Linked DNA regions of Homo sapiens: region 1 is linked to region 2. Evidence: fine-mapped expression QTL. A gene starts in region 2. The other region holds a variant in brackets. All regions are shown on one strand. Distances are from middle to middle. Region 1 overlaps SLA2 (Src like adaptor 2). Region 2 holds the start of MYL9 (myosin light chain 9).

Evidence for each region. PIP is the estimated chance that this variant, and not a neighbour inherited with it, causes the effect.
Region 1: its variant is fine-mapped to the expression of MYL9 in whole blood (TOPMed, PIP above 0.99).

What each region holds. Positions count from the first base shown.
Region 1 is chr20:36,631,079-36,635,461 of GRCh38, reverse strand. It overlaps SLA2 (Src like adaptor 2), which reads left to right. Exons shown (of 8, transcript NM_032214.4): 3 at 873-972; 4 at 1,833-1,919; 5 at 2,764-2,867. Among named protein-coding and RNA genes, the nearest start is that of SLA2, 13 kb to the left of the region's middle. RefSeq lists an enhancer at 1,935-2,436. The variant C/T (reference allele first, on the strand shown) is at 2,172.
Region 2 is chr20:36,538,921-36,543,303 of GRCh38, reverse strand. It overlaps MYL9 (myosin light chain 9), which reads right to left and starts at 1,785. Exons shown (of 4, transcript NM_006097.5): 1 at 1,743-1,785. All of the region lies in intron 2 of DLGAP4-AS1 (DLGAP4 antisense RNA 1), which reads left to right. RefSeq lists enhancers at 1-330, 331-984 and a silencer at 1,765-1,964.

The sequences.
Region 1 (4,383 bases), 92 kb before region 2:
TCGTCTGCTTCCCCTGCCCCACTTCCTGGGGTCCCAGCTCCATCTGAAGGGCACACCAGAGTCCTCTAAGACCTTGCTTCCTACAGGGGCATCTAGGATGCAGAGGGACCCTTCTTGCTGACCCTGGCTGCTTCTCCTACTTAATGTGTTTATGTGCTAAGGAATCCTTACAGAAAAAGGACAAGGGGGAAGAAGGGAGGGATGCTAGGGTGCAGTGAGTGGCCTTCAGCAGCTGCTGAAACCTGGATTTTCAGGCTACAAGGCTCGGCGGTCATAGGGAGTCTGGTTGGCCTGAGCAGGCTGCCCTCTGGGGTGGCTGAGGGCGTGGGTGCTGTGCTGAGGGTGCCCTTGCCGCCTGATGCCCAGCCTTGAAATTGGGCCTTATGGTCACCACATTCTGAGCCTCATGGCCACCGTGTCCTGGGCAACATAGCAAGACCTCATCTCTACTAAAAAATTGTTTTAAATTAGCCGGGTGTAGTGGTGCACACCTGTAGTCCCAGCCACTCAGGAGGCTGAGGCTGGAGGATTTGAGCCCGGGAGGTCAAGGCTGCATTGAGCCTAATTTTTAGAGATAGGATCTTGCCCTGTCGCTCAGCCTACGTGCAGTGGTGATGGAGCAAGACCCTATCACTATTTTTTTTTTCTTTCTTTCTCTCTCTCTCTCTCTCTCTCTGGGCACTGTCAGGGCTCTGCAAAGTTCTGCTGGAAAAGCTTGATTCCAGGGTGGCCCTCTTAGGAAGTGGATGGGACTCCCTCAGGGTGCTTGTGGAGGGCTGATGCTGGGAGCCAGACCCAGGCCAGACTCCACTAGACCTCATGCGTGGAGCAGGGCTAGCTAAGTAGGTGACTATTTCTGTCCCTCCATCTAGAGAGAAGCAAGGCCACAGCCGTGGCCCTGGGCAGTTTCCCGGCAGGTGGCCCGGCCGAGCTGTCGCTGAGACTCGGGGAGCCATTGACCATCGTCTCTGAGTAAGTCCATGGGCACTGGATACCTGAATATGCACTAATAGAGCCAGGCATGGTGGTGTGTGCCTGTAGCGCTAGCTGTCTGGGAGGCTTAGGTGGGAGAATCGCTGGAGCTCGGGAGCTCAAGGCTGCAATGAGCTATGATCAAGCCAGTGCACTCCAGCTTGGGTGACAGCAAGACCCTGTCATCTCTAAAATAAATGAATGGGCCAGGCGTGGTAGCTCACACCTGTAATCCCAGCACTTTGGGAGGCTGAGGTGGGCAGATCACCTGAGGTCAGGAATTCGAGACCAGCCTGGCCAACACGGTGAAACCGTCTCTACTAAAAATACAAAAATTAGCCGGGCTTGGTGGCAGACGCCTGTAATCCCAGCTACTTGGGAGGCTGAGGCAGGAGAATCACTTGAACCTGGGAGGAGGAGGTTGCAGTGAGCTGAGATCACGCCATTGCACTCCAGCCTGGGCGACGAGCAAAACTCTGTCTCAAAAAAATAAAAGAAGGAAGGAATTAGAGATACTGTCCCGGGAGAAGGGGCCCTTCCCCCAGGTAGAAAAGCACAAGCCTTTGCTGAAGCGCTCACAGAAACCCTGTGGTGGAATTTCAGGCGGCTGGACACCCCCACAGGGAGAAGCAGTGGGTGGGCAGCGCCCTGTAGCAGGGAGCCTGGAATTGTGCATCTACCACCAGCCCCAGCCCTGACTCAGGAGGTACCTGGACAGGCTAGTGCAGGGAAGCCTGGGAAACAGGCAGGACAGGTGGCCACAGGATCCAGCCTGAGAGGGTCCTTGCAAGCCCTGAATGTGTGGTTGTCGGGGCCTTGGCTCATCTGAAAGAGGTGCCCCCACTCCTTTCTCTCTCCAGGGATGGAGACTGGTGGACGGTGCTGTCTGAAGTCTCAGGCAGAGAGTATAACATCCCCAGCGTCCACGTGGCCAAAGTCTCCCATGGGTGAGTTCCCACCCCAGGCCCGCCTTGCAGAGCTTCCTGCTTTCTCCTCCCACAAGAACTCCCCTTTGTGCACGGCTCTGCGCTGAGCAAAGCTGGGGATGGGGGAGAATCGAACCCAGGTCCTGCCCTCAAGAGGGGCAGACAGCTCATCCTAGCACAGGTTGGCCTGTGAGATGTGGGAGCCAGAGGAAGGGCTTGGGAAGGCCCACAGAGGAGGTGTGGAGCTCTGGGCTTTGGAGGTTGCCAGGATCT[C/T]GTGGTGGAAAATGCTGAAAAGTCCACGTAGGAGATGGCAGCATGTGGCGTGAGGGGCTGGCACAGTGGTGCGCACCTGTAGTCCCAGCTACTAGGGAGGCTGAGGTGGGAGGATCATCTGAGCCTGGAAGGTCAAGGCTGCAGTGAGCCGTGATTGCGCCACTGCACTCTAGTCTAGGCCACAGAGCAGGAGCCTGTCTCAGTAAAAAAAGAAAAAAACAGAGGGGCAGCTCTTGGAAAGCTGAGGCTTAGAAAGGTGAGTGGATAGAATCAGGGTGCTTTGGGGACTGAGCAGGGATAGCAGAGAGGCTGGGACCAACCCAGGTTACTTGGGGGAATGAGGTCTCCAGGCAGAGAAAGCTGAGGCTGTCCCCATGAGTTTGTCCTCCCAGGGCCCTGGAGCCAGGACTGGGAGGACAAAAATGGCATGGACCTCGGAGACCCTGAGCCCAGCTCTTCGTGGAGCAGATAGAACTCTGAGGCCCAGAGAGGGAGGGCCTTGTGAGGGTCACTCAGCGGTGGTGGTAAAATCTTGGCTTCCCTCTTCCTCCAGGCTGACCCTGTCCCTTGTCCCTCTCTTTCGCTCCGCCAGGTGGCTGTATGAGGGCCTGAGCAGGGAGAAAGCAGAGGAACTGCTGTTGTTACCTGGGAACCCTGGAGGGGCCTTCCTCATCCGGGAGAGCCAGACCAGGAGAGGTGAGTAAGCTCGGTGCCAGCCCAGGCCCTCCCTACGTGGAGGTCTCAGAAAGGAGCCCACAGATATATGGCTGCAGGTGCGGCCCAGAAAATAGGCTTTGCCTGACTTCTCAGTCAACCAAGATTTCCTGAGCCCCAGCTCCGTGTCCTGCCCATATGAACCATGTGGAGCCCAGGCTGGGGGAGATGGAGACAGGCCATGAAAGCAGAGGAGAGGCAGCTAACTTTGGAGCAATCAAGGGAGGCTTCATGGAGGAATAGACCATGAGTGGACCTGGAGGAGTGGACCTGGGATCCTGAGGGATGTTCCCACAGGATCCCAGGCAACAAGACACAGTGGTGCTGGGGTGGGCCAGTGGGCTGCACCTCGGGACAATAGGAGGTTAGAAGTGAGCAAGCTCCAGCACAGAGGCCTTGGATGCCGAGCTGAGAAGCTTTGGTTTTCTCCCAAGGCAGTGGGGTTGCTACTCAGCAGAGACACAGTGCTGGGCGTGTGTTTTGGGGGAAACGAGAGGATGCATTACAGGGACTCTCTGAGTGTGTTCTGTGGGCCACCTGCTTAGAAGTAGAGGAGATGGGGGGTCAGTTTAGGGGACCCCGAAAATCGTATCCTTCTCTGAGAGGTTCACAATCCGTGTTAACACAAGACTTCTTAAGGCGTCGCGTTTGCCTAACTGGGCATTTCCCAAGTGTTTCTGACACAGGAGTGTTTCATCATGCAGCACCAGTCAGAGTCACTCCATGTTCATTCATTCAGCAAATGCTTCTCCAGCACCTATGATGTGGGGAGGCTTCAGGGAAGGACAGGACCTACTGTATGTGTCAGGCCTTAGGCATCTCTGCTGAGTGAGGTGGCCATGGTCCCTGCTCTCAGGGAGCTCCTGGGTCACTGGAAGCCAGTGTTCCATGGCACAGAGTTTGGGAAACATACCTCTATTTGAGATCCACAGTGATGCCAGGGCTTGCCCCTCCAATGCCAAGAGCCAAGTGTGATATGACTTGAGGGTGGGGCAGAAGGCCAAATGTGAAGGGCTGGAGTTCCTAGCCTTGGTGTCTAGCAGTCTGGCTGTCATCTGCCATGTTGCTGCCATGAGAGCCTATCAGCAATAGAGCAAAAATCTGCATTTCTAAAAATAATACAGGCCGGGCACTGTGGCTCACACCTGTAATCCCAGCACTTTGGGAGGCTGAGGTGGGAGAATCACTTGTGCCCAGAAATTTGAGACCAGCCTAGCCAACATAATGAGACCACTTCTCTACAAAAAAATTTAAAATGTAGTGAGGCATGGTGGTGCATCCCTGTAGTCCGAGCTACTTCGGAGGCTGAAGTGGGAGGATCACTTAAGTCCAGGAGTTCCAGGGTGCAGTGAGCCATGATTGCACCACTGCACTCCAGCCTGGGCAACAGAGCCAGACTCCATTTCAAAAAATAAAAGTGAATGTGAATGGCCCACAGTAGGGATCTAGGCTCAGCCAACACATTGGCAACTAGGATTTTTAATAGAGTATAGTCACA
Region 2 (4,383 bases):
GGATCCCGGCCAGCCCCAGCTGGTCCCCAGGGCCATCACTGCCTGTAGTCATGAGACAGTGGTTGCCCGTGTCCCACGGACCGACACACCCAGCCCTCAGTGTTTCTTGCATGGTTCAGGAAGGTAGACAGAATTCCTTCTCACCCATGACCTAGTTGGGAGTGCCATTGTCCCCAGATGCCGGCCCCCTCCTCTCCCGTGCTTTAGAGGGGCCTAGTCCTTCCCTGAGTCCAGTGTTCTCGGGAACTTTGACTCCTGGTGCCCACAGAAGGCTGCATGCAGAGAGGCAGTGCACTGTGCCCAACAGAGGCTGTGATGGCCATCACTGTCCCCACCACACTCTATGAAGCTCTAGGGCAGGCATGGCCAGGCCACCCACAGCTGGGTCTGAGCCCAGCTGGGCCCCTCTGCCTTCATGGCCACCCGGTCTGCACTCTCTGCTGTGGTGTGGCTGGGAGCACTGTACTTAAGGGCTTGCACAAGGCCGCCATGTCCACCCCAGCAATTGTGGGAAGTGGTGAGCGGAGGCAGGGGTGCCCCCATGGTGCAGCTAGGAAAAGAGGCCCCAGAAGGGGAGTGGAGTGCCCATGAGAGGGGGAGGGGCCACCTGGAAGACAGGATTCCTGGGCTAGGTTTGGGTCAGTGGAGAGCAAACTTGGCTGCTGGTGCCCTCGAGGCTTGAACAAAACAGGGAGCCCCAGTCCTCAGGCGGGCCTGTGGCAGTGGAGTGGGAAAGGGCTCTGTGTATCCAGAGGCGCCTTCTAGAACTGGTGGAGGGGCGAGGGGCAGGCATGGGTGGGGCCTTTAGTTCTGAGGCCATCGCTTCCCCCTTCAGGTGCCCTAGACACCAGGGGTCAGCACTGATACTTGGCCTGGATGTGACTGGATGCCATGTCCCCCATCCTGGTGTCCAGATTCCCACCATAACAGAAAAGGCTGGGCTGAAGCCAGCACAGGGCAGTGCCCCCATGACCTCCAGCCCCTGGAGCTGGGCAGGCCAGATGCCTCCTTCTCAGTGCACCTCATCTGAGTCTCCTCCTTAGAGCAGCTGGAGGGCTGGGAAGAGCAGGGATCAGGTTCTCCCAGCCACTAGTCCTCGTCCTGCCCCCTAGGGGTGAGTCCATCAGGGCCCTCCGCAGACCTTCCCCACCCACAGGCGAGATGACCCAGAGAGGGGAAGGCCCGGGTCCCTGCATACAGCACTGGCTGTGTCGGAAGGGCCCCCTGGTCTCGGTCCCTTTCCCCTGGCCCAGGGTGTAGGGATGGGAGATGGGGAGGGGACACAGATGCTGTGGGGGCGTGGAGTCCCACAGGGCTGTTTCTCCATCTGTGACACACATGCCTTTACTGGGCCAGGGGGAACTGACGACTGCAACCCTCTCCCCAGCACCCTTGTACCCGGGCTCCCCAGCCCCCCCCGGAGCTCTGGGCTTGGCATCTCCAGCTCCTCAGCAAAGGGGCAGGGCCTGGACGATGGCCTTCCCTTGCCGCAGGACCACTGCTTCTCAGAGGCCAGAACAGCCTTCCTGCTGCCCGGCCCCTGGCCAGAGTCCCTGTCGGCCCCCAGCAAACTCGCTGCCCCAGCTCACCCCTCAGTCCGTGCCCAACAGACCCTACCACGTCCCAGTCCGTGGGGCCCGCCTTTGCCCCCCGTGACAGCCGGGTCGGGCCCGGGCCACCTCTCATCTCCAGCCCTGGGCCGTTAGGCCTGTCCTCAAGACCCCCGGGGCCCCGGATCCCACCTGGTGCGGAGAAGGCGCTTGGGCTCGCTGGGTGCGTGGAACTGGGCCGGCCGTCGGGTCTGGACTCCAGGCGGGGGCGGGGCGTGGCGGCCGGGCCTTACAAGGCAGAAGAATGTGCGCGGGGCGGGGCCGCGGGCGGGGTGCGGGGGCCCTCGGCTGCCGTCCGGCCTTATTTGGCCTCGACCCACGGGCTGGCAGGCGGGGGCGCTCTGGGGTGAGCCCCCCTTCCTTGCTGTGCCAGCCCGGGCTGCACAGAGGGCCTTGTAGGGAGGGGAGGTGATGGGGTGAGCAGGCAATGGGAGAGGGGGTGTGGGGGTTCGCTCTGGGCCACCCCTTCCCCTCCAGAGAGGCAAACGGAATGTCCAGGGCCGCTTCCCCAGAGGCCTCCCACTTGTATGGGCCGTGGGAGTGCAGCTTCCCCTGACGGGCAACGGCTCTCGACGTGGGGAGGGCAGAGGCGGTGGGTGGGGGGGCTCCCAGGGACCCCTACGCCCGGTGACTCGCTCTGTCCACATCAGCGGTCGCCCGCCAGAGCGGGGTTGAAGGAACCACTCGGGAAGCACTGGTTTCGTGGAGGGAAACACGATGAACAAGTAGCTCCGCGGCCTGGGGCCTCAAAGGAGAAGGGGACCTGGGGGGAGCGTGGGCTGTTCCGCAGGGTGCTCTGGGCAGTGACATTGGGCAGACAGGAGGTGCAGGGGTGCGCCCCGCCGTGAGGGCTCCCGGGCTTGGGGTCGCCGGCAGCAGGAGGTCAGGAGGATGGGGGCGGGAGCCGGAGGGGCTGAGAAGCAGCAGGGACCCCTCTGTGGCTCCCTGTAGGCCATGTGGGGTGTCGGAGGGTTCCGAGCAGGGGGTGACGACCTGGCTTGGGTTTTGACGGAATCCTTCTGGGTGATGTGTTGAAAATAGCGCAGAGGGGGCCGAGTCCACGAGCAGGGGACCTGTGAGGAGCGACCCAGCAAGGATCAGGCTGATCCGGACTAGCGGGGAGGCCGAGGGACAAGTGCTAAAACTATTTCCGAGGTGCAGCCGGTAGGATCTGCTGGGGCATGGGAATGGGTGTGAAAGAAAAGAGTTAGGGTGGACTCTCAGAGTTTTGATGTGAGCAACGAGAAAGAGCTGCCATTTTCTATGATGGGTTTGCTGTGTGGAGCAGTTTGGGGATAAGAAACTCTATTTTGGACAGATTAATTTTTAAAAACTTTATTTTGAAATGATTTCAGACTTAGGATAAAGTTAGAAGAACTGTGCAAAGAACCCTGTATAGCTTCATCTAGATTCTCCATTTGTTACCATTGGGTTTTATTATATTTTCTTCTTGCTTTCCATATACATATACATATATATAATACATGTACATACATTTATATTTATTTATTCCTACCCCCAACCATTTGAGAGTTTCTTGCATACGTATGTCCTGTTATCTCTACATGTTTCAGTGAGTACCTCCTAAAAAGGAGATTCTCTTAAATATGCATAGTACAATGATAAAAGTCAGGACAATTTTCACATTGATTTAATTACCTAATTTACAGTCCATATTCAGGTTGTGCCAGTTATCCCAATAATGTCCTTTAGAGGAATTTTTTCTGGTCTAGGAGCCAAAGTAAGATCATTTGTCATCACATTTCTTCAGTGTCCCAGTTTTACATTTTATTTTTTGATTGTGGTAAAATATACATAACATAAAATTACCATTTTCAGCGTGTTTTTTTTTTTTTTTTTTTTTTTGAGATGGAGTCTCCCTCTGTCGCCCAGGCTGGAGTGCAGTGGCGCCATCTCAGCTGACTGCAAGCTCCGCCTCCCAGGTTCATGCCATTTTCAGCATTTTTAAGTGTATAGTTTGGTGGCATTAAGTATATTCACTTTGTTTTGCAACCATCACCACCATCCATCTCCAGAGCACTTTCATCTTCCTCAGCCGAAACTCCCTGCCAGTTAAACACTAACTCCACCTTGCCCCCTTCTCCCCGCCCCTGGCAGTCATCATTCATCTTTCTGTTTTCTGTGAGTTTATCTACTTATTGGGGCCTCATGTAAGTGGAATCATATAGCATTCGACCTTTTGTCACTGGCTTATTTCACCCAGCATAATGTCCTCAAGCCCCAGGTTCATCCATGTTTAGTGTATATCAGAATTTCTTTTTGGGGGTGGGGGGTTGAGATAGGGTCTCACTCTGTCGCCGTGGGTGGCATGCAGTGGCACAATTATAGCTCACTGCAGCCTTGACCTCCTGGGCTCAAGCAATCCCCCTGCTTTGACCCCCTCAAGTAGCTAGGGCTGCAAGCATGCACCAGCACACCCGGCTAAGTTTTCTTTTTTTTTTTTGAAACGGAGTCTCGCTCTGTCACCCAGGCTGGAGTCCAGTGGCGCGATCTCGGCTCACTGCAAGCTCTGCCTCCCGGGTTCATGCCATTCTCCTGCCTCAGCCTTCCGAGTAGCTGGGACTACAGGCGCCCGCCACCATGCCCGGCTAATTTTTTTTTTTTGTATGTTTAGTAGAGACGGGGTTTCACCGTGTTAGTCAGGATGGTCTCGATCTCCTGACCTCATTATCTGCCCGCCTCAGCCTCCCAAAGTGCTGGGATTACAGATGTGAGCCACTGCGCCCGGCCCACACCTGGCTAAGTTTTCTAC